Linked DNA regions of Homo sapiens: all the other regions are linked to region 1. The links come from fine-mapping of genetic effects on gene expression. A gene starts in region 1. Each other region holds a variant in brackets. All regions are shown on one strand. Distances are from middle to middle.

Region 1 (8,169 bases):
TCATCTATGAATCCTTCCTTTTTTCCTTCTACCTATCAACCGTTCCATCCATCCATCCATCCATCCATCCATCCATCCATCCATCATCCACTCATCCATCCATTTACAAATCCCTTCATGAACCATTCACTCCCCGCTCAACCACTCACCTCCTACCTATCCTGTTCACCCATCAACTCAGACAGTCAACTGCTGGAGAGTTGGAGTAAATTTGACATGCCTTCCTTTTTATGGGATCCCAGTCTGGTGGGGCAGTTAGATGCAGGTGCAGACCATCCCACCTCAGTGTGCTCACGTCTGGAGAGAGGGGAAAACCCAGGCTGTGGGGCTCTGGAAGGGCTGTGAGGGCTCTACCCTGGATGGGCTGGGGAAGGCAGCAGGGAGGAGGGGTGGAAAATGAAGGCGTGCTTGGCCCTGGGTCCAGCTTGGGCAAAGTCCTGGAGGCTTGAAACACAGACCATGTGTATGGAGGATGGGGAAGGGAGAGAAAGGCACCCAGGCTGCTTGAGAAGCGTTGTAAGCTCCAGGGTGCATGTGGGCCATGGGGAGCCAGGCCGGGTCTCTGGGCAGGTGAGGACATCAGTGCCACCTTTCCTTCCCCACTCTCTCAGGTCCGGAGGTGACGCCAGGCCCTGGGGCCTACAGCCCAGAGAAGGTGCCCCCTGTGCGCCATCGGACACCGCCGGCTTTCACCCTGGGCTGCCGCCTCCCCCTGAAGCCCCTGGACACCTCAGCCCCTGCCCCTAATGCCTACACCATGCCCCCTCTGTGGGGCTCACAGATCTTCACCAAGCCCAGCAGCCCCAGCTACACGGTGGTGGGCCGCACCCCCCCCGCCCGCCCCCCGCAGGATCCTGCTGAGATACCAGGCCCGGGCCAGTACGACAGCCCGGACGCAAACACCTACCGCCAGCGCCTGCCTGCCTTCACCATGCTGGGGCGGCCCCGGGCCCCGCGACCCCTGGAGGAGACCCCCGGCCCTGGCGCCCACTGCCCAGAGCAGGTCACCGTGAACAAAGCCAGGGCTCCAGCGTTCTCTATGGGCATCCGCCACTCGAAACGGGCCAGCACCATGGCCGCCACCACGCCCTCCCGGCCTGCGGGGCACAGGCTGCCCGGCCGCTGCTGCTAGGCCAGGCCTGTTTCCCACACAGTGAACGGGGGGCTGGCGGGCCTCTCCTGGGGCCTGGCTTTGGCTGGAGGGGCTAGAAGGCGAGAGGGGCTGGGAAAGGAGTCTTCCCTCCCCTTTCCTGAACTGTCCAGGTCCTTCTAGGACACCTGATCCTTCCAGTCCCTGGGGGCTGTGACCCATGGCCCTGTGCAGGGTGCAGGGTGAGTCTCCTTCCAGTGCCCCAGTTTCTTCCAGGTCACGCCAGGCCAGGCCAGGCCAGGTGGGGAAAGGGACACCTTCCGGCCCTCCCCAGTAGCTGGCTGGAGATGGAGCTTCCTGTGTCCCAGAACTCGGCGTCCAGCTCCACTAGGGCCTGGATCCCCATCACAGCTTGGGTTAGCCCCGGTCCCAGCCCAAACTCAGGCTGGAGGCAGCCCCGAGGCCTGTGCCTTTCCCACTCCACCTTCTACAGTTGCTTAGCCAATAAACCTTTCCTGGGCTGGAGAGCTGTCAGCATCACATGTGCTTACTCATTTAATGTGTCTTTTTTTTTTTTTTTTTTTTGAGACGGAGTCTCGCACTCCCGCCCAGACTGAAGTGCAGTGGCGCGATCTCGGCTCACTGCAAGCTCCGCCTCCCGGGTTCACGCCATTCTCCTGCCTCAGCCTCCCGAGTAGCTGGGACTACAGGCGCCCGCCACCACGCCTGGCTAATTTTTTGTATTTTTAGTAGAGATGGGGTTTCACCATGTTAGCCAGGATGGTCTCGATCTTCTGACCTTGTGATCCTCCTGCCTTGGCCTCCCAAAGTGCTGGGATTACAGGCATGAGCCACCGAGCCCGGCCTTAACGTGTCTATTGATGTCACAGAAAAGAGACCCGAACGCCGCCCTCCAGAGCCAGACCCGTAGCCCTCCAGTGGCCAGGGGGTCTGAGAGACCAGAAGAGAGACCCAGGGCGAGGGGAGGCCGGAGGTGGAGCCAAGCTTTTGAGCAGGCAGCCAGGTAGGCTTCCTGGAAGAGGCAATATTGAAGCTGGGTTTTGAAGGATGTATAGGAGCTTGAGGTATTCTAATATCTGCCATCAGTAGCTGCTTGCTATGTTTTGGATATTAATAAAGATCATCTAGGCTTCATAGCAACTCAGGACCAGGGGCATCTACTGAGAGGAAATGGTGCTTTGGAGAGACTGGACATTTGTCCTGGGGCATGCTGTGAGCCCCCACCTCAGTCTGATGTCAGGATTTGAACTCTGGATGTTGGACTGAGTTCCTGCCACTGTCTCCAAGGGACAGGAAGGAAACACACCGGGGGTGCCGTGTGACTGAGCCCTCTGTGTGCCAGGGAGGGATGGCACCTGGACCACCTTACAAACCTCCCATCCAGAAAGACCCTAATCCCGGAGCTTGGGAGGGTGCGACACTGCCCCGGGACCTCCCTGAGGGATGCAGCCTGGGAGGCATGCAGGGCGCAGAGAGGGGGTGGTGGGGCTGCTCTCTCCTCAGCCCACAGCCCTCAGCCTAGGGCCGCCAAACCTGTCCCACCCTTTACCCATTAGGTGAACACACCCCAGGACCCAGCAGCCTGGATCCCCTGCATATGCCTGGACACGCACCCAGACACAGCGTACACCCTGCGCACAACACACACACCGCGCGCAGGTCCAGCCGCGGCTCCAGCCCGACCAATCGCGCCCACGATCTGCTCCTCCCGCGGACGCGCAGGGGCTGAGTCCGACACGCGCCGCGGCAGAGACGGCCGATCGCGACCGCGCGCCTCGCTCCCCTCCCCCACCTCCCCGGCCCCGCGGGCGGCGCCGGCTGTGATCTCATCCCCTGAATTATCGATCGGGCTCCGGGCAGCCTCGCCCCTCCCTCCCTCCCCACCTGCCAGCGCGTCCCGGCCCCTCCCTTTGTTCCCGGCAATCAGCCCTGCTTGGGGCGGGGCAGGTGCAGGGGAGCTCCAGCCAAGTCGGGCCAGGAGGCTGGGTCCCGGGGTGACAGTGACACCCCGTTTTCTGGTGCAGAAGGAACCGACCCTTGAGGCCAGGGAAGGTGCGGCCGGTCTCGGAGAGGTTGAGGCTGGGGATGGAGCGACCGGCCTGGGAGGCTGAGGCCCAGAGCTCAGATGAGCTGGTGCGGGACTGGGCTCCCCAGAAGTGAGGGAAGAAGGGCCGCGACCCTCCAGCCCGCTCCCCTGAGTTACAGCCGGAGAAACTGAGGCCGGGACAGGCCGCAGAGCAGGGGCCCGGCTCCGCTCCTAGCCCCGCCCCCCCCCCCCACCCCCGAGCCGGCACTCCTGGGTTTGAGCTTCGTCTGTGAGCCCTCGGCCGCGCCCCTTCCCCTCCCCGCGCCTCAGTTTCCCCACTAAGAAATAGGGGTGACCCTAAGGTACCTTCTAGCTGCAACAACGGAGAGGGAGGGGCTGACCTTAGGGTCTGGGGTTCTCTTTTCCCTGGCCGCGCCTCCCGGGGCCTCAGTTTCCCCACTAGGAAATAGGGGAAAGAAGGGATGTGGAATTTCTAAGCTTCTCCAGCTCGGTCCTTCTGCGAACTTGGGCGGCGGGCGGGGGTGGGGGGCGCAGCGGGGAGGGTCGCTGACGGGGTTCTGGGTTCAAAGCCCCGTCCCGCCTTGGCTGCGGGTTCCAGGCCAGCGCCCGGTGTCCTCGGAGGGCCTCAGTTTCCCCAGCCTCGCGGCCAGGCTCCGGGACGAGGAGGGCCGGGGTCCCAGGGGCGCAGCCCCCCGCGGCTGCGCGCTGGGCCGGGCGGATGACATCACCGGGCCGGGGGGCGGGAGGGAGCGGGCGGAGCGGGAGGGCTTCCTCCGCGCCAGGCGCAGCGCCCGGTCGGGCTCCGTCGGGCGGCCGCGGCCATGACGCAGGGTCCGGGCGGGCGCGCGCCCCCGGCGCCCCCCGCGCCCCCCGAGCCCGAGGCGCCCACCACCTTCTGCGCGTTGCTGCCCCGAATGCCGCAGTGGAAGTTCGCGGCCCCGGGCGGCTTCCTGGGCCGCGGCCCGGCGGCGGCGCGGGCGGCTGGGGCCTCGGGGGGCGCGGACCCCCAACCCGAGCCGGCGGGCCCGGGGGGCGTCCCGGCGCTGGCGGCCGCCGTCCTGGGCGCCTGCGAGCCCCGCTGCGCCGCGCCCTGTCCCCTGCCCGCGCTCAGCCGCTGTCGGGGCGCGGGGTCGCGGGGGTCGCGGGGCGGGCGGGGGGCGGCGGGGTCCGGGGACGCCGCCGCCGCCGCCGAGTGGATCCGGAAGGGCAGCTTCATCCACAAACCCGCGCACGGCTGGCTACACCCCGACGCCAGGGTCCTGGGGCCCGGGGTCTCCTACGTCGTGCGGGTGAGTCCCCCCCACCCCCCCCGGGAGCCCGTTCGCGGCGGCCTCCCCTCCCCCACCCTCTCCTCCGGGACCCCCGGACCCCGCGAGCCAGGTGTCCCCTCCCCATCCTTCCTGCTCTCCCGCCACCCCGGACCCCCATCCCCGGCCGGCGGCCGGCGGCTGCCCCCACCCGGAGGCGCTGGGGTCCGGGTTCCCACGGCGTCACGTGGGGAGGGGCGGGGAGAGGGCGGCGGGGGAGGGGCGCGCATGCGCAGGTGCACCGCCCCCCACTCGGACTGGGCGGGCGAGGCCGAGAGCGGCGAGCGGCCGGGGCGTCTCTGCCACCGGAGCCCCCCGGACAGCTGTTCACGAATGACAGACGGGGCCCGAGACGCTGGCCTGCGGTGGGGGTGCGGGAAGGGGTGTTTGGAAAGGGGCTGGCGCCCGGACAGACCCCAGGATTCCAGATGGGAGGCAGCAGGGACTTCCAGGGCGGCCAAGGAAGCGGCCTTTGTTTATTTACCTTGGGTCTTATGATAAATGAACCTTTTCAAACACACGGGGAAGTCGGGCGCCTGGACACAGCACGCCTCCACCTAGGAGGGTAACCTTCCCCTCTGCTGACGGGTCTGCCCCTCTCTGTGGTTTATAGTAAACCGTGTGAAGTCACCTGCAGGGGTGACAGCGCCGTGCATAGTCCCCCGTCTTCTGAGAGAGCAGCTGTCCTACAGCTGCAGTCATTACGGCGTCTGGGAAAATGATCAGCCACTCCCGCACGCCACTACCGGTGGGTGCTCCCAGCTCCTCCCGGCCTCTGCGGCCAGGAACATTAGCCTGTGTTCACATTGGGTTGTGTCTTTGCTTTTCTGGACACTGAGTTCAGTAGGGTCCTTCCCTCTACACTGAGTTGAGAAGGGTCCTTCCCCTTACACTGAGTTCAGTGGGGTCCTTCCCCCTACGCTGAGTTCAGTGGGGTCCTTCCCCCTACGCTGAGTTCAGTAGGGTCCTTCCCTCTACACTGAGTTGAGAAGGGTCCTTCCCCCTACGCTGGGTTCAGTGGGGTCCTTCCCCCTACGCTGAGTTGAGAGGGGTCCTTCCCCCTACGCTGGGTTCAGTGGGGTCCTTCCCCCTACGCTGGGTTCAGTGGGGTCCTTCCCCCTACGCTGGCTTCAGTGGGGTCCTTCCCCCTACGCTGGCTTCAGTGGGGTCCTTCCCCCTACGCTGGGTTCAGTGGGGTCCTTCCCCCTACGCTGGCTTCAGTGGGGTCCTTCCCCCTACACCGAGTTGAGAGGGGTCCTTCCCCCTACGCTGGGTTCAGTGGGGTCCTTCCCCCTACGCTGGGTTCAGTGGGGTCCTTCCCCCTACACCGAGTTGAGAAGGGTCCCCCTACAATTCCTGTGCCGTAGGAGTCTGACCTTATTACCTTATATTGGGAACAGGGTCCTTGCAGATGTAACCTAGTCAAGATGAGGCCTACCTGGATCAGGGGTCTCTGTAAGGAGAAGGAACTTTAGACTCAGATGCACAGAGGAGCGGGCCGTTAGGAGACAGGCAGAGGTGGGGGCCTCAAGCCCGGGCCCACCAAAGCCTGTGGGAGCCCCCAGAAGCTGGCTGTGAAACCTCACTCCCCCACGTGTGGTCCCCAGGCGCGCTCGGCCTGCGCAGTACAACCGGCTTCTGCCTCCCCAGGACCCGCTTCCGCCTCCCCGGAACCCTCTTCCGCCTCCCCAAGACCCGCTTCCGCCTCCCCAGGACCCGCTTCCGCCTCCCCGGAACCCGCCTCCGCCTCCCCGGGACCCGCTTCCGCCTCCCCGGAACCCACTTCCGCCTCCCCAAGACCCGCTTCCGCCTCCCCGGAACCCGCTTCCCCCTCCCCCGGAACCCACTTCCGCCTCCCCAAGACCGGCTTCCGCCTCCCCGGAACCCGCGTCCGCCTCCCTGGAACCCACTTCCCCGTCCCCCGGAACCCGCTTCCGCCTCCCCAGGACCCGCTTCCACCTCCCCGGAACCCGAATCCGCCTCCCCAGGACCCGCTTCCGCCTCCCCGGAACCTGCTTCCCCGTCCCCCGGAACATGCGTCTGCCTCCCCGGAACCCACTTCCGCCTCCCCAAGACCCGCTTCTGCCTCCCCAGGACCCGCTTCCGCCTCCCCGGAACCCGATTCCGCCTCCCCGGGACCCGCTTCCGCCTCCCCGGAACCCGCTTCTGTCTCCCCGGAACCCGCTTCCGCCTCCCCAAGACCCGCTTCCGCCTCCCCGGGACCCACTTCCGCCTCCCCAAGACCCGCTTCCGCCTCCCCGGAACCCACTTCCCCCTCCGCCGGAACCCGCGTCTGCCTCCCCGGAACCCACTTCCCCGTCCCCCGGAACATGCGTCTGCCTCCCCGGAACCCGCTTCCGTCTCCCCGGAACCCACTTCCGCCTCCCCAAGACCCGCTTCTGCCTCCCCGGGACCCACTTCCGCCTCCCCAAGACCCGCTTCCGCCTCCCCAAGACCCGCTTCCGCCTCCCCGGAACCTACTTCCGCCTCCCCAAGACCCTCTTCTGCCTCCCCGGGACCGGCTTCCGCCTCCCCAGGACCCGCTTCCGCCTCCCCGGGACCCACTTCCGCCTCCCCCGGGTCTGTGCGGATGCCAGGCCTGGTTGGGTCTGTTTTCCCTGGTGGCATCGGGCCGCCCTCGCCGTCTCCCGGCGGTTTGTCCTACAAGTTTAACGCCGACGGCCGGCGTGTTCCACGGAGGACGCGTGCGCTTCCTTCACACCACATCCATTGGGACCAGTCAGGTGTGGCCATTGGCCGTGGATGTGGGATTTAGAATGTTCAGAATTCAGACGCCAGGGTTGTTGGGGCTCCGGATGTTGGGGGATAACTGCTGCTTTCCGTCACTGCAGGAAATATTTAGCATACGCTTCCCCTGCCCGGCACAGATGATGAGTAGACAATGAGAGACCTCGTTCCTGCTCTCAAGGAGCTTGGATTCCAGTAGGAGAGACAGTCAATCAGAAGAGGACAAACAGATGAGGAAATAGGTTCTGGTAGCGGCTCTGCAGAGCTAAAATCGTGTGATATTAGAGCAGGAGGCTGGGCGGCTGCCCCTCCCAGGAGGCGACCTTGAAGCTGAGACCTGAGCCATGGAAACCCCGGCCGTGGGGTTTGCAGACATAGTTCTAGACGGGGCACAGCAGGTGCAGGTGCAAAGGCCTGATATGGTGGGTTTGCAGACAGAGATCTAGGGGGGGTACAGCAGGTGCAGGTGCAAAGGCCTGATGTGGTGGGGTTTGCAGACAGAGTTCTAGTCGGGGCACAGCAGGTGCAGGTGCAAAGGCCTGATGTGGTGGGGTTTGCAGACAGAGTTCTAGTCGGGGCACAGCAGGTGCTGGTGCAAAGGCCTGATGTGGTGGGGTTTGCAGACAGAGTTCTAGTCGGGGCACAGCAGGTGCAGGTGCAAAGGCCTGATGTGGTGGGGTTTGCAGACAGAGTTCTAGGCGGGGCACAGCAGGTGCAAAGGCCCCACGCGGTGGGTTTACAGACAGAGTTCTAGGCGGGGCACAGCAGCTGCAGGTGCAAAGGCCTGACTGTGGAGTTTACAGACAGAGTTCTAGGGGCGGGGCACAGCAGGTGCAAAGGCCCCACGCAGTGGGTTTACAGACAGAGTTCTAGGCAGGGGCACAGCAGGTGCAAAGGCCCCACGTGGTGGGGATTGCAGACAGAGTTCCAGGCAGGGGCACAGCAGGTGCAAAGGC
Region 2 (8,169 bases), 59 kb after region 1:
GCTCAGAGATGCCCAGAGAGCAGCCCTATGGCCCATCCGTCCTCGCTGGGGGCTGCCACCCCGTCGCCCTTTTGTCCAGCGTCTGCAGCTGGGAGCGACACGCAGTGATTGACGGCCGTGGCTTTGACGCCACGTGTGTAAATAGGCTGTGGCTACGGTGGGTGGGTCGGAGCCCAGGAGGCAGCTGGGGGGACCTGGCTATGGCCTTTCCTGCTGTTAGGTGGCTGCAAGGCTTCCATTGTGTGGTTATGTGGGTCCTTGAATGATTTTGGGGAGGTTTCCAGCTCAGAATGATGCAGAAATGATAAGACTCAAAGCAGGGGCCAGGCCAGGCCAGTGCCTTCGCCTCTCCCGGCTGCTGGTGGGCACGGAGGAACCAGGGCACATCTGTGGTACCCAGGGACGTCCCTTGTCAGCCCGTTTGCCACACATTGTTCCTCTTGTCCAGGGGAGGGTGGAGGAGCTGCTTCCCAGGACTGGAGGAGCAGCTGGGCCCCTGCTGCACGTCCGGTGGGACACACCTGTGAGCCCTCCAGAGGGAGAGTGCAGGCCCCTTCTGAGCCTGGTGTTGCAGGGCTCCGCTCTCTCCCGGAAGCCAGGGCACCCAGGGCGGAGGCTCCTCAGGCCGGGGAGGCGGGGAGGGTGCCCTGCATGGAGAGAGACGCCGGCGCTCCCCGCCTTCTCTGATGCTCACCCCTCCCAGGCCCTGTTCTCCCTGGGGTCCCCCGTTTAGTAGCCCCCCTGCACTCTTTGATATCTTAGTGTCTGAGGTTGACTGTGGGTAAATCTTTAAGACACTCCCCAGCTGTGTTTGTTTATAAATGCTGTTTATAGTGCAATAAAGGTGTTTCGGGAATACGGGGGTGGAGGTTGGCTTCCCTGGCTGTTTAATAACGAGAGAGTTCTGCGGTGAACTCCAGGGAGGAAGGAGAAGAGGATTCCAGATTGGCAAGGTCCTTTCCACTGCCCTCCGCATTCTCCTGCCCCGGGTGGAGGCAGGCGGGGGCAGGAGCCCAGCCCCTGATAAACCACCTCCCTTGGAGCGGCAGGTCTGGGTTCTGCTTCACGGTTCCAGCTCTTGACTACATGGATGTCAGGAAACAGGACTCGGACCCCACACGGTCCCTACAGGGTGGGTCCCGCCTCCCCTCAGAACCTTCAGACAGGACCCTGTCTCCACAGACCCCCTCTAGACACAGCCCCGTATCCCCCTCACACCCCTCAGGGCAGGACCCCGTTCCCCCCACACCCCTCAGGGCAGGACCCCGTTCCCCTCACACCCCTCAGGGCAGGACCCCATCCCCCCTCCACACCCCTCAGGGCAGGACCCCGTTCCCCCCACACCCCTCAGGGCAGGACCCCGTTCCCCCCACACCCCTCAGGGCAGGACCCCGTCCCCCCCCCACACCCCTCGGGACAGGACCCCGTCCCCCCCTCACACCCCTCAGGGCAGGACCCCGTCCCCCCCTCACACCCCTCAGGGCAGGACCCCGTCCCCCCTCCACACCCCTCAGGGCAGGACCCCATCCCCCCTCCACACCCCTCAGGGCAGGACCCCGTTCCCCCCACACCCCTCAGGGCAGGACCCCGTTCCCCCCTCCACACCCCTCGGGGCAGGACCCGTCCCCCCCTCAGACCCCTCAGGGCAGGACCCCATCCCCCCTCCACACCCCTCAGGGCAGGACCCGTCTCCCCCTCAGACCCCTCAGGGCAGGACCCCGTCCCCCCCACACCCCTCAGGGCAGGACCCCGTCCCCCCCACACCCCTCAGGGCAGGACCCCGTCCCCCCCACACCCCTCAGGGCAGGACCCCGTGCCCCCCCCACACCCCTCAGGGCAGGACCCCGTCCCCCCCCCACACCCCTCAGGGCAGGACCCCGTCCCCCCCACACCCCTCAGGGCAGGACCCCGTCCCCCCCTCAGACCCCTCAGGGCAGGACCCCGTCCCCCCCCCACACCCCTCAGGGCAGGACCCCGTCCCCCCCACACCCCCTCAGGGCAGGACCCCGTCCCCCCCTCAGACCCCTCAGGACAGGACCCGTCCCCCCCACACCCCTCAGGGCAGGACCCCGTCCCCCCCACACCCCTCAGGGCAGGACCCCGTCCCCCCCCCACACCCCTCAGGGCAGGACCCCGTCCCCCCCACACCCCTCAGGGCAGGACCCCGTCCCCCCCACACCCCTCAGGGCAGGACCCCGTCCCCCCCTCAGACCCCTCGGGGCAGGACCCCGTCCCCCCCACACCCCTCAGGGCAGGACCCCGTCCCCCCCACACCCCTCAGGGCAGGACCCCGTCCCCCCCTCACACCCCTCGGGGCAGGACCCGTCCCTGTGCTCTCAGCCCAGGCTGGGCTGCTCTGTCTCTCCTGCTGCCCATGGGGTCCAGATGTCTCTGCCATCTCAAATCCACCAGGAGCTTTTGGGAATTGGGGTTCAGCGTAGCCCGGCCTCCTGACCGCGGCCTGGTGAGCCCCAGTCAGGGCCTGGGACGGGTTGACAGGGCTACGGGCGCCTTGTAGCCTCTTCAGCCCCAGCCACTCATCGCTAGGCTGCACGGGTGTGTGCGTGTGCGTGCCAGGTAGGTGCACACACGTCGCCATGTGCTTCCGCATGTGTGTGCAGTGTGACTGCGTGTGCCGTTACCGTGCTCATCTGTTGGGCGTATGTGACAGTGCCAGGTGAGCGCCTGCAGGCACTCGAGTATAGCTGCCTGTGTGCTGGCGTGTGCACGTGTAAGCACGTGAGCCGTGTATGCATGTGTGACCCTGTGTGCGCTTGTGTGTGCCTGTGTCGCTGCTGGTGTGCACTTGTGTGTGCGTTTGTGTGTGCTGGTGTCTGGGAGCTGCAGCTGCCCATGCCCTCCCCCCTCCACTTCCAAGTGGGCGTCATCCAGGGATTCTGCGCCTGCGTGGTGTCTCGCCCTGCCTCAGGTCTTGGCCCACTGCCCTTCAGGTCAGCCCCCACCCCGGGGGAGTCAGATGCCCTTGTTCCCTCCTGGCTGTGGCCGTTTGCTGCCTTGTGATGTTGATCCTGAGCAGAACGAATCTACTGTTTGCACCTCCAGCATCCCTGGCGCCACAGAGCGCTCGGCCCCAGTGGGTGCTGTGCGGTGAAGGAGGCAGGCACACCTGCCAGCAGTCTCTCCTTTCAGACTGGCGGCCATCCTGAGTCTCCCGACCCTCAGGAAGGCCATGGGCACCACAAGCGGGGGGCACCCCGTTTGGTGCAAATTACAAAAAGATGCCCCTTCTTCAGAGGGGAGCCATCATAGGGAACAACAGATGAAGAGTCAGAAGCCTGGAGACATTGCGGACACCTGGATCCAGCTATGCCTGAAGTCCATAACTGCGCACCATTTCAGCTCAGAGGGTGGGCCGGTAAAGTGCCTTGTTTGCTCAAGCCGGCTTGTTTCAGTTTTTTTGTTTTGTTTTGTTTGTTTGTTTTTTGGAGACGGAGTCTTGCTGTGTCGCCCAGGCTGGAGTACAGAGGTGCAGTCTCGGCTCACTGTAGCCTCTTCTTCCAGGGTTCAAGCGATTCTCCTGCCCCAGCCTCCCAAATAGCTGAGATTACAGGCGCCCGCCACCACACCCAGCTAGTTTTTTGTATTTTTAGTAGAGACGGGGTTTCACCAAGTTGGCCAGGCTCGTCTCAAATTCCTGACCTCAGGTGATACGCCTGCCTCGGCCTCCCAAAGTGCTGGGATTACAGGCGTCAGCCACCACGTCCGGCTGATTCATTTTTTAAGGTGACAGAACACTGATCCAGTGGGTCTCTCCCATCCGAGGAGGAGGAGTAACACCTTCCCAGGGCCCCTGCCTTGCGGCCTGTCCTCTCTGGGGCCTTGAACCTCTAACCCTGACGTGTGTGGGGAGCCGCAGGGTGAGTTTCAAGCCCCACCTTCCACGTGGGGTGTGGCCCGGGGCAGTGCGTGGCTTCTCTGGGTCTCAGGCTCCCGAGGCCGAAGGCTCTGTCTGTGATGAGCCCTGGCGGCTTGTGTGCAGTAGAGCTCAATCCACAGGCTCGCCGGGCGGAAGCCGGCACAAAATAGCGACGATAATTAATATAATCACATCAGGGCCATAATTACAGGCGGCCTCAGACCCACCCAGGCGGGGGCTCCCTCGGCCTCTCTCTGCGGCACCCACCGCCCCAGTGCCGGATTCGATTAAGCTTTTGTTTTCTTCTCAGCTCCTGGGGGTGGGAGGGAGGGGCTGCCCACGGCCAGTTCCGCTGACAGGAGGAGAAAAATGACTTCAATAAAAAGGAGGAGGCGGACGCCGACCCGCACACATGCTCCTCCCACGAGGGCGGGCCATTCCCGCGGGCCGGCGCCTGAGCCTCAGTTTACCCTACTGTACAGTGACGTGGTCCCAGAGCCTCTCTCCAGGGTCACACGCAGGGCAGGGCCTGTTGATTAAGCGCATCGTGGGTGGGTGGGCGGGAGGACCCGCTGAATCCTCAGCAAGACGCTGCCTACTGCCATCCACAGATGGAAACACCGAGGCACAGAAGGCAAAGGGGCCTGCGCACACCTCCCAGCTGACAGGACAGGAATTCGGACCAGGGCTGGACCCACGCTGCCCTTCCTGGGTGGGACTGGACACCTGCTTGCATGGCCGGCCCCTGCCATCTGGCAGAGAGGGCCCCAGGGAGCTGTGCTCTGCCAGCCATGGGTCAGAATCCTGACAAGTCCCTCCGTTCTCTGTGACTCGGTTTCCTCTGCAGCACCCTGTACCCTCCCTGCCTGCTGGTGGGGCTGGAGTGGGCACGGACCCAGCACCCGTGGCACCCAGTCCTGGTCACCGGCTGAGCCCTGCTGCGGTGCCACGGATGAGACCCGCACCTTCCCCCGTGGGGTGAGGAATCCTCTC[G/A]TGCGGGGTGAGGTCTGGGCTTTGCCTTGGCTTTGGGAGGTGATTTCTGCCCTGCCTGAGGGGAGCGTCTTGGTCTGGGGTAGGGAGGGTCACACCAGCAAGACCAACCGTGGGACTTGGGAGCGCCTTGGGTCTCACAGCGTCAGACACCCTTGGAGTTCGAGGGCAACCCCGTGGCAAGCAATCAGTCAATCAAGCCCCCACGAGGGATCCCTCGCAGAGCTCTGGGCGCCTAGGCTGCCGTGCCCTTTCCTGGTGGTCCGTGCGCCCTGTGAGTGAGCAGTTCCCGGCTTCCCCGGACAGGACCACGGGGCTTCTCCGGGACGCTGCCTCATGTGCTCTTCCCCAGCCCACGGCACCTGCACCCCGGCACTGTGACAAACCCTACCTGTGACGAGGACAGCTTGCTGGGAGTTCCGTGCGTCCTCGCAAATCATCAAGCGTGAGGGTGAGCCTGGGAACCCCTGGAAGAGTGAGGGTGAGCCTGGGAACCCCTGGAAGAGTGAGGGTGGGCCTGGGGACCCCTGGAAGAGTGAGGGTGGGCCTGGGAACCCTGGAAGAGTGAGGGTGGGCCTGGGAACCCTGGAAGAGTGAGGGTGGGCCTGGGAACCGCTGGAAGAGTGAGGGTGGGCCTGGGGACCCCTGGAAGAGTGAGGGTGGGCCTGGGGACCCCTGGAAGAGTGAGGGTGGGCCTGGGAACCCTGGAAGAGTGAGGGTGGGCCTGGGAACCCCTGCAAGAGTGAGGGTGGGCCTGGGAACCCCTGCAAGAGTGAGGGTGGGCCTGGGAACCCTGGAAGAGTGAGGGTGGGCCTGGGAACCCTGGAAGAGTGAGGGTGGGCCTGGGAACCCTGGAAGAGTGAGGGTGGGCCTGGGGACCCCTGGAAGAGTGAGGGTGGGCCTGGGGACCCCTGGAAGAGTGAGGGTGGGCCTGGGGACCCCTGGAAGAGTGAGGGTGGGCCTGGGAACCCCTGCAAGAGTGAGGGTGGGCCTGGGAACCCCTGGAAGAGTGAGGGTGGGCCTGGGGACCCCTGGAAGAGTGAGGGTGGGCCTGGGAACCCTGGAAGAGTGAGGGTGGGCCTGGGAACCCTGGAAGAGTGAGGGTGGGCCTGGGGACCCCTGGAAGAGTGAGGGTGGGCCTGGGGACCCCTGGAAGAGTGAGGGTGGGCCTGGGGACCCCTGGAAGAGTGAGGGTGGGCCTGGGAACCCCTGCAAGAGTGAGGGTGGGCCTGGGAACCCCTGGAAGAGTGAGGGTGGGCCTGGGGACCCCTGGAAGAGTGAGGGTGGGCCTGGGAACCCTGGAAGAGTGAGGGTGGGCCTGGGAACCCTGGAAGAGTGAGGGTGGGCCTGGGAACCCTGGAAGAGTGAGGGTGGGCCTGGGAACCCTGGAAGAGTGAGGGTGGGCCTGGGAACCCTGGAAGAGTGAGGGTGGGCCTGGGAACCCTGGAAGAGTGAGGGTGGGCCTGGGGACCCCTGGAAGAGTGAGGGTGGGCCTGGGGACCCCTGGAAGAGTGAGGGTGGGCCTGGGGACCCCTGGAAGAGTGAGGGTGGGCCTGGGAACCCCTGCAAGAGTGAGGGTGGGCCTGGGAACCCCTGGAAGAGTGAGGGTGGGCCTGGGGACCCCTGGAAGAGTGAGGGTGGGCCTGGGAACCCTGGAAGAGTGAGAGTGGGCCTGGGAACCCTGGAAGAGTGAGGGTGGGCCTGGGAACCCTGGAAGAGTGAGGGTGGGCCTGGGGACCCCTGCAAGAGTGAGGGTGGGCCTGGGAACCCCTGGGCTGCCGTTGGGGCTGGAACGGGGGCACTGTTGTTGGGACACTGCCCTCTGACCTTTCAGCGTGGTTCACTCCAATCCCCGGGCCACAGAGTCCTCGTGGCCTCCCTGGGAGTGTGCACCTGCCCGGCCGTGGAGACACATGACCCTTGCCCCCAAGCTCCCCTCTCACCTCCCTAACCCCTTTGCCTGTGGCCCAGGCGGCTCAGAGGCACCCCCCCGCCCACCAGCCACTGTGTCCCCACCCTCCCCTCCCACCTGGGCTCCCCCAGCCAAGCCACAGAATGCTCCTTCCTCATCTCCCAAAGTCACGGGGACAGCTCAGATCAAGGACTGCAGCTCCCACACTGCCAGCCCCTCCCCCTCTCTGAGCCTCAGTTTCCTCCTGTGTAAGTGAGGTGCCCAGTGCACACTGCCCTCTAGGCTTCAGGTGATGGCAACATTGAGCTTTCAAAGCACTCACGCATAAACCTCATTCAGACCACGGGCCACTGTAGGTCAAAGGTGCGTCCGAGTGTTTACTAAGGAACGGCAGGACTGGACTGAGTTTTATACGCAGCAGGAGGAAGGAGGCACCTGCCGCTCAGGGACAAAACTCATCCGCATTTGTCAATCCCAAGCAGCGTCCAACCCCAGAGCCAGGACACTGGCAAGAGTGGAGGGAAGCGTCCACAAAGTGACCCCCGGGTGGCCGGGCTGGTCGAGGCTCTGGAATACAACTGATCCTCTGGGTGATTCGGCCCCTCGGGGACACGGGGCAACGTCTGGGGCTTCTGTGGTTGTCACGACTAGGGGAGCTCCTGGTGTGGAGTGGGCGGAGGCCAGGGACACTGCTCAGCACCCAGCAGTGCCCAGGACGGCCCCACCCCAGGGAATGATCAGCTCTGAGGCCCACCGTGCCGAGGGTCCAGGATCCAAAGAGCAGGCAGTGATGTTTTTACCCCTTTCCAAGTTCTGGATAATTTTCCCAAACCTGAGGATGAAACGAGAGAAGGCACATAAGCTGCCTAGCAAGGTGACTGCACATGGTGAGGGGTCTCACGTGTCGTCTGCACGCGGTGAGGGTCTCACGTGTCGTCTGCACGCGGTGAGGGTCACACGTGTCGTCTGCACGCGGTGAGGGTCACACGTGTCGTCTGCACGCGGTGAGGGGTCACGCGTCGTCTGCACGCGGTGAGGGGTCATGCGTGTTGGCTGTTCCCCTTTCCTTTGGCAAATGTGGACTGAGTGCTGCTGTGCCTTATGCTCGTGTCGGGGATACCACAGCTCCAGGGTGTCCCTGACATGATGTTCCCGGCCCTGCGCTCTCCAGAGCTGAGACTCACCCCATGGAGCAGTGGCCACTGGGCCTGTCCCCTCCAGACTGCTCCGCGCAATACAAAGTGGCAGTGGGTAGCTTCCAAACCCAGGCCATGAAAAGGAGGTGGCCCAGGGAGGCAGGTGCAGCTGGCAGCCCAGGTGGGCCCCAGCCTCCTGGTCTTAGAGCAGACTCCCAGATGTCATGGAGCAGGGGCACCATCCCTGGTCTGCC
Region 3 (8,169 bases), 170 kb after region 1:
TCTCTCCAGTCACTGGTGTCACGGCCATGGGTGACCCACAGTCTCTCCAGTCACTGGTGTCACGGCCATGGGTGTCCCACAGTCCCTCCAGTCACTGGTGTCACGGCCATGGGTGACCCACAGTCCCTCCAGTCACTGGTGTCACGGCCATGGGTGTCCCACAGTCTCTCCAGTCACTGGTGTCACGGCCCTGGGTGACCCACAGTCCCTCCAGTCACTGGTGTCACGGCCATGGGTGTCCCACAGTCTCTCCAGTCACTGGTGTCACGGCCCTGGGTGACCCACAGTCCCTCCAGTCACTGGTGTCACGGCCATGGGTGTCCCACAGTCCCTCCAGTCACTGGTGTCACGGCCATGGGTGTCCCACAGTCCCTCCAGTCACTGGTGTCACGGCCCTGGGTGACCCACAGTCCCTCCAGTCACTGGTGTCACGGCCCTGGGTGTCCCACAGTCCCTCCAGTCACTGGTGTCACGGCCCTGGGTGACCCACAGTCCCTCCAGTCACTGGTGTCACGGCCATGGGTGTCCCACAGTCCCTCCAGTCACTGGTGTCACGGCCATGGGTGTCCCACAGTCACTGTCACTGGTGTCACGGCCATGGGTGACCCACAGTCTCTCCAGTCACTGGTGTCACGGCCCTGGGTGTCCCACAGTCCCTCCAGTCACTGGTGTCACGGCCCTGGGTGACCCACAGTCACTGTCACTGGTGTCACGGCCATGGGTGTCCCACAGTCCCTCCAGTCACTGGTGTCACGGCCATGGGTGTCCCACAGTCACTGTCACTGGTGTCACGGCCATGGGTGACCCACAGTCTCTCCAGTCACTGGTGTCACGGCCATGGGTGACCCACAGTCCCTCCAGTCACTGGTGTCACTGCCATGGGTGTCCCACAGTCCCTCCAGTCACTGGTGTCACGGCCCTGGGTGACCCACAGTCTCTCCAGTCACTGGTGTCACGGCCCTGGGTGTCCCACAGTCTCGCCAGTCACTGGTGTCACGGCCATGGGTGTCCCACAGTCCCTCCAGTCACTGGTGTCACGGCCATGGGTGTCCCACAGTCCCTCCAGTCACTGGTGTCACGGCCCTGGGTGTCCCACAGTCTCGCCAGTCACTGGTGTCACGACCATGGGTGACCCACAGTCCCTCCAGTCACTGGTGTCACGGCCATGGGTGTCCCACAGTCTCTCCAGTCACTGGTGTCATGGCCATGGGTGACCCACAGTCTCTCCAGTCACTAATGTTACAACCCTCGGTGTTGCCTCACAGCTCTCTCTTTTATTTTTCTCTCTCTCTGTGCTTCTGTTTGAATAATTTCTTTTTTTTTTTTTTTTTTTTGGGAGACGGAGTCTTGCTCTGTCACCCAGGCTGGAGTGCAGTGGCATGATGTCGATGATGTCGGCTCACTGCAACCTCCATCTCCTGGGTTCAAGCGATTCTCCTGCCTCAGCCTTCCCAGTAGCTGGGATTATAGGTGTGCGCCACCACACCCGGCTAATTTTTGTTTTATTTTTAGTAGACACGGGGTTTCACCATATTGGCCAGGCTGGTCTTGAATTCCTGACCTCGTGAGCCACCTGCCTCGGCCTCCCAAAGTACTGGGATTACAGGCGTGAGCCAGTGTGCCCGGCCTCTGAATAATTTCTATCGACATGTCTTTGATGCTACCAATCCTCTTTTCTGATATTCCAGATTTCTATTTAGTCTGTTTCACAAAATTTTTATTTCCCATATTGTATATTTTAATAGGTGCTCTTATGTGTTTTTAATTTTTCTGCTGAAATTCTCCATTTTCTCACCTTGCCCCTATCTTTTCTTCTGTAATCTTTAACCTTTTAATAATAGTTACTTTAAATCATTGTCATCCTATTGCTTTGCTTTTTTTTTTTTTTTTTTTTTTTTGAGACGAGGTCTCGCTCTATCGCCCAGGCTGGAGTGCAGCGGCGTGAACTCGGCGCACAGCAACTGCCACTTCCCAGGTTCAAGTGATATTGTCCTGCCTCAGCCTCCCGAGTAGCTGGGACTACAGGCACCCACCACCATGCCCGGCTAGTTTTTGTATTTTTAGTAGAGACGAGGTTTCACCATGTTTGCCAGGATGGTCTTGAACTCCTGACCTCAGGTGATCCACCCGCCTCGGCCTCCCAAAGTGCTGGGATTACAGGCGTGAGCCACTGAGCCCAGCCCTTTTTTTCCTTTTCTTTTTCTTTTTTTTTTTGAGACGGCGTCTCGCTTTGTTGCCCAGGCTGGAGTGCAGTGGTGTGATCTCAGTTCACTGCAACCCCTGCCTCCCAGGTTTAAGTGATTCTCCTGCCTCAGCCTCCGGAGTAGCTGGGATTACAGGCGCACACCACCACACCGCACACGCTGCCACGCCCGGCTAATTTTTGTATTCTTAGTAGAGACGGGCTTTCACCATGTTGGCCAGGCTGGTCTCAAACTCTTGACCTTGTGATCTGCCCTCCTCGGCCTCCCAAAGTGCTGGGATGACAGGCGTGAGCCGCTGTGCCCAGCCCGAAAGTTATACTCTTAAGACCCAGTCCGGGGATGCCAGGGCCTCCAGAAACAGGAATCAGGAGTCACCATCCACATTATGATGTTTCGGTGCTTCTATTTCTCTGCTGCCCGAACTGACCTTCTTCTCAGGGGCAGCGCCCTTTGTGGCGACTGAGATGGCACCAGAAGCTCCAGGCACACAACCTTACATCTGTGATTTCTGTGGGAAGCCTGTATCTTGCCCAACTGTTCTAACAAAACTCCTGGGTAAAATTTGTTCTTGGGTCTCGTGCCCATAACTGAATCAGGAACTGCCGAGCAGAAGGGGTTTCCTGGTTGGCCAGGCCAGGGTCCCTTGTTCCCCTTCGGTAGCAGGGCAGGCCCCATGGAGAAGGAATAGTAAGAGGGAGGAGCACATGGGCAGGCCGGGCGCAGCCACCCAGAGGCATGAGCGTCCCATTTGTGTGGGGTGAGCACAGAGGTCAGGAGGGCAGTGCAGGAACAACTTCCCTCTTAGGCCAAGAAATCTGAAACTGGGAAGGCAGTGGGGAGCCTTAGTGTGTTTTTTAGCTGAAGTAGAGTCACGCTTTAGGGAGATTGGATTTGACTGGAATATCTAAGATAGGTTGGAGCTGGGAGAGACCCTGGGATGCCATTGTTGACTAATATTCTGTTCTTGTCCATGGTGTCTTGTGTTTCTGAGGGTGCACTAGATGTGGGTAAGACAGTTAAGGAGCAGAGGGGATACTGTTTTGCCTCAGGAAGGGCTTGCCCCTCTCCTGTCAGCAGCTGGGTTGATGTGCTGGTCTCGAGGAGCTGGGCTGGCCTGCTCACCGCTTGTGTAGCGTAGCTTTGCCTCTGGGTTAGCTGTGGGGTGGTGGAATCCTGCCCTTCCTGCAGCCCAGACCCAGGCAGGAGGACCTGGAGGGCCCGCTGTGCCTTGGGGCTCTTCCGGATTTGTCTGACACCAGGCTCCTAGGACTAATGAGGCCTCCACCAGACTTGGTCTTGACTAACCTCAGGGGAGCTCATACCTCTCTAGAACAAACTTACTGTCCTCAGCTTTTCGGCAGCCATAAATAAAAGTCATTTGTGTTCGTTTATTTAATGCTTTCCTTTTACAGTGAAGTGAAGGTCTTTGATGACCTCCTTCCTACCTGCTAACCAAATATGGAAATCTGTTCTGGACAGAGTCCATGGCCGTGCCAGGAAGCAGGCGTTAGCCAGGGGCCTGCCTGGAGATCAGCCCTCCTGAGACAATTTCTGTGGGGGTGGAAGTGGGGGAGGGAGAAAGTCGCTCAGAACTGATGGTCCTGGACCGGCCACGGTCCCCAGAGCCTCAGCCTCCCAGGCCCAGGCTTTGTTGAAGATGTCCGGGCCCTGGACTGG[C/T]GCTGTCTGGGCCCCCACTGACCTGACCCAGCTGTTTCTCTCTCCCTGATGGTCCTTGTTTTCTCGGTTTGTAGTTCCTGGGTAGGATGGCCAGATAAAATACAGGATGCCCAGTTGGGCTCGGATTACAGATAAACGAATGTGTAAGTATGTCCCATGCAGTATTCGGGACACATACTGAAAACCGGTTTGTTGCTCTTCTGGGATTCAAATGTAACGGGGTGTCCTGTTTGTTTCACAGGTATCAGGACTCAGCTAGGGGGTCCTTGATGTTTATTTGCCCCATTGCTGGGCTGTTCTCAGGAGGATGTTGAGACCCTGGCGTGGAGCGCCTCCTCGGCGTGTCCAGCAGAGGGCGGCCGTGCCTCCCGGAGGCATCGCGGGGCCCAGAGCGCAGCCCAGCCCCGTCCCCTGGTCCTGTGGCTCGAGGTCGGGGAGGGAGGGGCGGTGGTCGCTGCGGGGCAAATGTTTCCACTCACCCGGAGCCACGACCCACGGCCTGTGCAGGGAGAGTCGAAAGCGCGGCCCCCGGTGAGCACTTGGGAGGTGAACCGGTTCCCCGCCCTGGTGGGCTGTCACCAGTCACATCAAGAGATGCAGGACGGCGGTGGCCTCACCAGAGGCATTACGAGTTCTCTGGAGCCCCTCCGCCACCACCGTCCTTGTTCTTCCTTGAGTCGGAACCAGGTCCTTGGGGTCTGTGGGTGCTCAGTGGCTTTGCAGACCTGCAAAGATTTGAGGTCTTCCAGGTGCCTCTCCTTGCCTTCACCAGATGCTGGTTTCGGGGGCAGGGATAGGGCTGCCAGGCATCAGGAAGGTTTGTGAACGGGGATTTAATCGAGTGTTTCGCGGGGTGGCCCCTGCCATCTCTGCCCCTCGTTTTGTACGAGAAGCAGGCGGAAACCAGCTCTCCCTTTGAGAACGCACTGTTGCCCTCCGCTGTTGCTTGTGTGTCTTGCCTTGCTGTGACCCAGGGAGAGCTCCCTGCAGCTGTCAGCTCCCTGGTGACCTCAGGCTCTGGGCATCCCAGTAAGCACGGCTTGCGCACCCACTGTGTGCCAGCTCCCACTTTCCTGGAGCTCGTGGGAGGAGACGGGGACAGTGAACGAACGCACAGACTGAGATGGTGGGAGGGGCTGTGCGTTCCGGGTTGTCTGCACGAGGGGCTCTGGCAGGGGGGCCGCGTCCCGGCTTGTCTGCGCGAGGGGCTCTGGCGACCACGTCCAGCACTACTGCTGTGTGTTTTTCTTTGCTGTGACCCAGTGAAGACCTCCTCACAGACAGAGCACAGCAGACTCGCGGTGCTGAAACCCGGAGGGTTACCCTGTCCCTGACTGACTGTAAGGTTACACTAAATTAAGAGGCACTCCAAGGATTGCAAAGTCCGAGGGGAATTTTGAATTCGTGGGTCCTGGATTGTGAATTTGAAGGCAGCGGTTTCCAACCCTTTTAAATCTTGACCCCAGGAAGAAGTACCTTCTACATCTTGACCCAGCAAACACGTGATACCTACCCACACTGTATTTTGTTCAATTAACCCTCAAATGATGTTTCCTAATGTTTGGCCCTGGGTCAAGCATTTCACAAACTATTTAATCTTCTCTACAATCCCAGGTGGTAGCTACTGTCTTGCCGCCTTTATGCAGACAGAGACTGAGGGATACCTTAGATGTCTTTCCAAACCATCCACCCCCTCAGCCTTCCCTGCCCACTGCCTGCACGTCAAACCCACTGACGGGCACTCGTTCGACTCCAAGAGCCCCGTGCCAGGAACCTGGGAGACAACTCCCGTTTTGACTCTGGGCAAGGTACTTCACCTCTCAAGTCCCAGAGAAGCAGAGAAAGCAACGGCAGGTATAGTGGCTGGCTGCACTTAGGTGGCACCTACTGTGTGCCAGGCCCCCTTCTGCCCACTTCACAGGTGTCTTAGTCTCCATAGAGTCCATTTGGAAACAGGCCCGGAGCCATCCAGGTTGCGATGAGGCACCAAGGTGGCAGAGCCAGTGCTGGGCAAGAGGCGGGAGCTGCAGTTGCTGAACCCGTGAGCTTGCTTGCCTGGGAGTGGCGACCTGGCCCTCAGGGGTTGCTTGTCTCTAGGGGACCCAGCCTGGGTACATGTACCACCACCCGCTTCCAGCTCTGCTATTTGCAGGTGAAGGAGAAAGCCACTGAGGCCTGGCCTCCAGGCCAGGCTCTGTCCCTGCTGGGAGCTGCCCTGGCCTCAGGTTCTTCCTGGAAGGGAGGACCAGGCAGCTGGGGGCAGCAGCAGATCCAGCTATGAAAGCCGTGACAAGAAGTTCCTTGAAGTGTGGTGGGCTGCAGTCAGCATATGTAGGAGACGACCCCAATCCTGACCCTAATCCTAATTCTTGCTTTCCCCACCAGATTTTAATCCTTATCCTGCCCAGGGATTTTAAGGGCTAACCCAAATCCTGACCCAAGGGGAAGGATGGAAGGGGGAACAGCCTGCAGCCTCACCTCCACCCTCTATCCTCCCAGGTCTACCTCCACCCCTCTCCTGGGTCTCTCCCTCTTGGCTTGGCCCCATCCCACAGCCCCCACTGTCTTCCCCCCGCTCCCACTTTGGCAGGCCCCTCCAAGTGACCTCTCCCTTGCTCCCCAGCACACAGTAGGTGCTCAATGAAGAACACCGCCTTTCCTTGACTCCAGTAGATGTTGCACCCTCTCCATCTTAGGAGAAAATGTGCGTTGGCTGTCAAGACTACACTGACAGCAGTGGTCACTCATTTGCAGACAGGGTGAAGTGTGGGGGAAAGCGCAGTAGTGACGCTGAACCCTACATTTATGTAGCATTGATGCTAGGCACCAGAACCCTCACAATCCTAATTCCGACGGGAGCTAGAGCCCCCCCACCCCACCGTGAGTGCAGCAAGGGAGCACCTCAACCCTGCCCTTGGAGGGCCACAGGTCAGCTTGCACCGTCTTCCCACCCAGCACCACTCTGGGTGCCTTTGCTGTCTCCCAAGAGCCCCTTGCCCTTGGAGTTCCCTCATGATGCCCCCCTGCCCCACGTGCAGGTGTCTGACCATCCGGGAAGCAGGGTCGAGGAGCTCCCAGTTGAAGTCCAGTTGCTGAGACGCACCCTGTTTTGGTGTTGCTGGGGCAGGGGGCTGATGGTGGTGCTGAACGGGTTTTAGAGGAGGGTCAGGGTGGCAGCGGATCTGGGGCCCAGCAGCCTTGTTTCTGACCCCAGGCCTGCCACTTCCCATTTAAGTGACCGTGAGTGGCAGAGGTCAAGGCTGGACTCCGGAAACGTGGGTCTGACACTCCTGAGGCCTCCCGGATGGTCCCAGCCGAAAGGACCCAGTGTGGGTCCCTTGGGCCTGGGTTTCCCTGGCTCAGGTGCCCTCAATCCCCAGGCACCCTCAGCTCAGGGCTCCCCACGACCTGGTGGGGGCACAGACCCCGGCGCCATTTCATGGGGTTCCCAGCTCCTGGCGCCCCCGTGCTCTTCTGTGAAATGGGACAGCAAGTGCGCTGATAGGAACGGTGCCTGGGCACAGGGCTGCGCCTGGACACCCTACGCCGTCGCAAGGTGGGTGCCGAGGAACTCGAGCTTCTAACGTGCCAGGGGTCCAAGGACGCGCCAGGATTTTGAGTATTAGGAGAAAAGAAACTCCTGAAATGAAGCCACGTCGCCCCTTCCACTTTAAGGTGCCTCCTGCTGTCGGAGTTTCCAGGCGCACACGGCGCGGCTGCCACTCCCTGAGGAGGAAAGTCGGGAACCGTCCCGCGGGGCCGGTCCCGCCGCTGCTCGTCCTCCTTCTCCACGTCCCCGCCCGGGGCTCCGCCGGCCCGACCCGCGGGGAACCTCCAGCCTCTGAGGACCTCACGCCGCTCGGAGACCCGCACAGCCCGGGTCAGGGCCGGGACTCCGGGCGGACGAGGTCCCCGTGGCGCCCGCACGCTCGCCCCACCCGCTCTTTTGGGCGCCGCGGCCAGGCGGGGGCAGAGTCCGCGCGGTCCCGGGTCCGCCGCGCCCCGCCCCCCCCGCTGCTCCCCTGCCCGCCGCTGCCGTCCCCCCTCCCTCCTCCCCTCCCCCCCTTCTTCCCTTCCCTCCCCCTCCCCCCTCCCCTCCCCGCCCCTAGCCCTCCCCTCCTCCCCTCCCCCTCCCTCCTCCCCTCCCCGCCCCTAACCCTCCCTCCTCCCCTCCCCTCCCCTCCTCACCTCTCCCCTCGTGCCCTCCCCGCCCCTCCCCTCCTCCCCTTCCCGCCCCTCCCCTCCTCTCCGCGCGGGGCGGGCTCCGCGCCACGTGACTCCGCGGCCG

The links. PIP is the estimated chance that this variant, and not a neighbour inherited with it, causes the effect.
Region 2: its variant is fine-mapped to the expression of SHC2 in thyroid (GTEx, PIP above 0.99).
Region 3: its variant is fine-mapped to the expression of SHC2 in whole blood (TOPMed, PIP above 0.99).

Annotation. Positions count from the first base shown.
Region 1 is chr19:456,807-464,975 of GRCh38, reverse strand. It overlaps SHC2 (SHC adaptor protein 2), which reads left to right and starts at 3,943. Exons shown (of 13, transcript NM_012435.3): 1 at 3,943-4,447. The coding sequence starts at 3,980. CIMAP1D (CIMAP1 family member D) reads left to right here. Exons shown (of 4, transcript NM_182577.3): 4 at 612-1,615. The coding sequence ends at 1,132.
Region 2 is chr19:398,132-406,300 of GRCh38, reverse strand. C2CD4C (C2 calcium dependent domain containing 4C) reads left to right here. Exons shown (of 2, transcript NM_001136263.2): 2 at 1-856. Among named protein-coding and RNA genes, the nearest start is that of C2CD4C, 6.9 kb to the left of the region's middle. RefSeq lists enhancers at 1-171, 7,116-8,169. The variant G/A (reference allele first, on the strand shown) is at 4,871.
Region 3 is chr19:291,389-299,557 of GRCh38, reverse strand. PLPP2 (phospholipid phosphatase 2) reads left to right here and starts at 8,155. Exons shown (of 6, transcript NM_003712.4): 1 at 8,155-8,169. RefSeq lists an enhancer at 4,712-5,561. The variant C/T (reference allele first, on the strand shown) is at 3,882.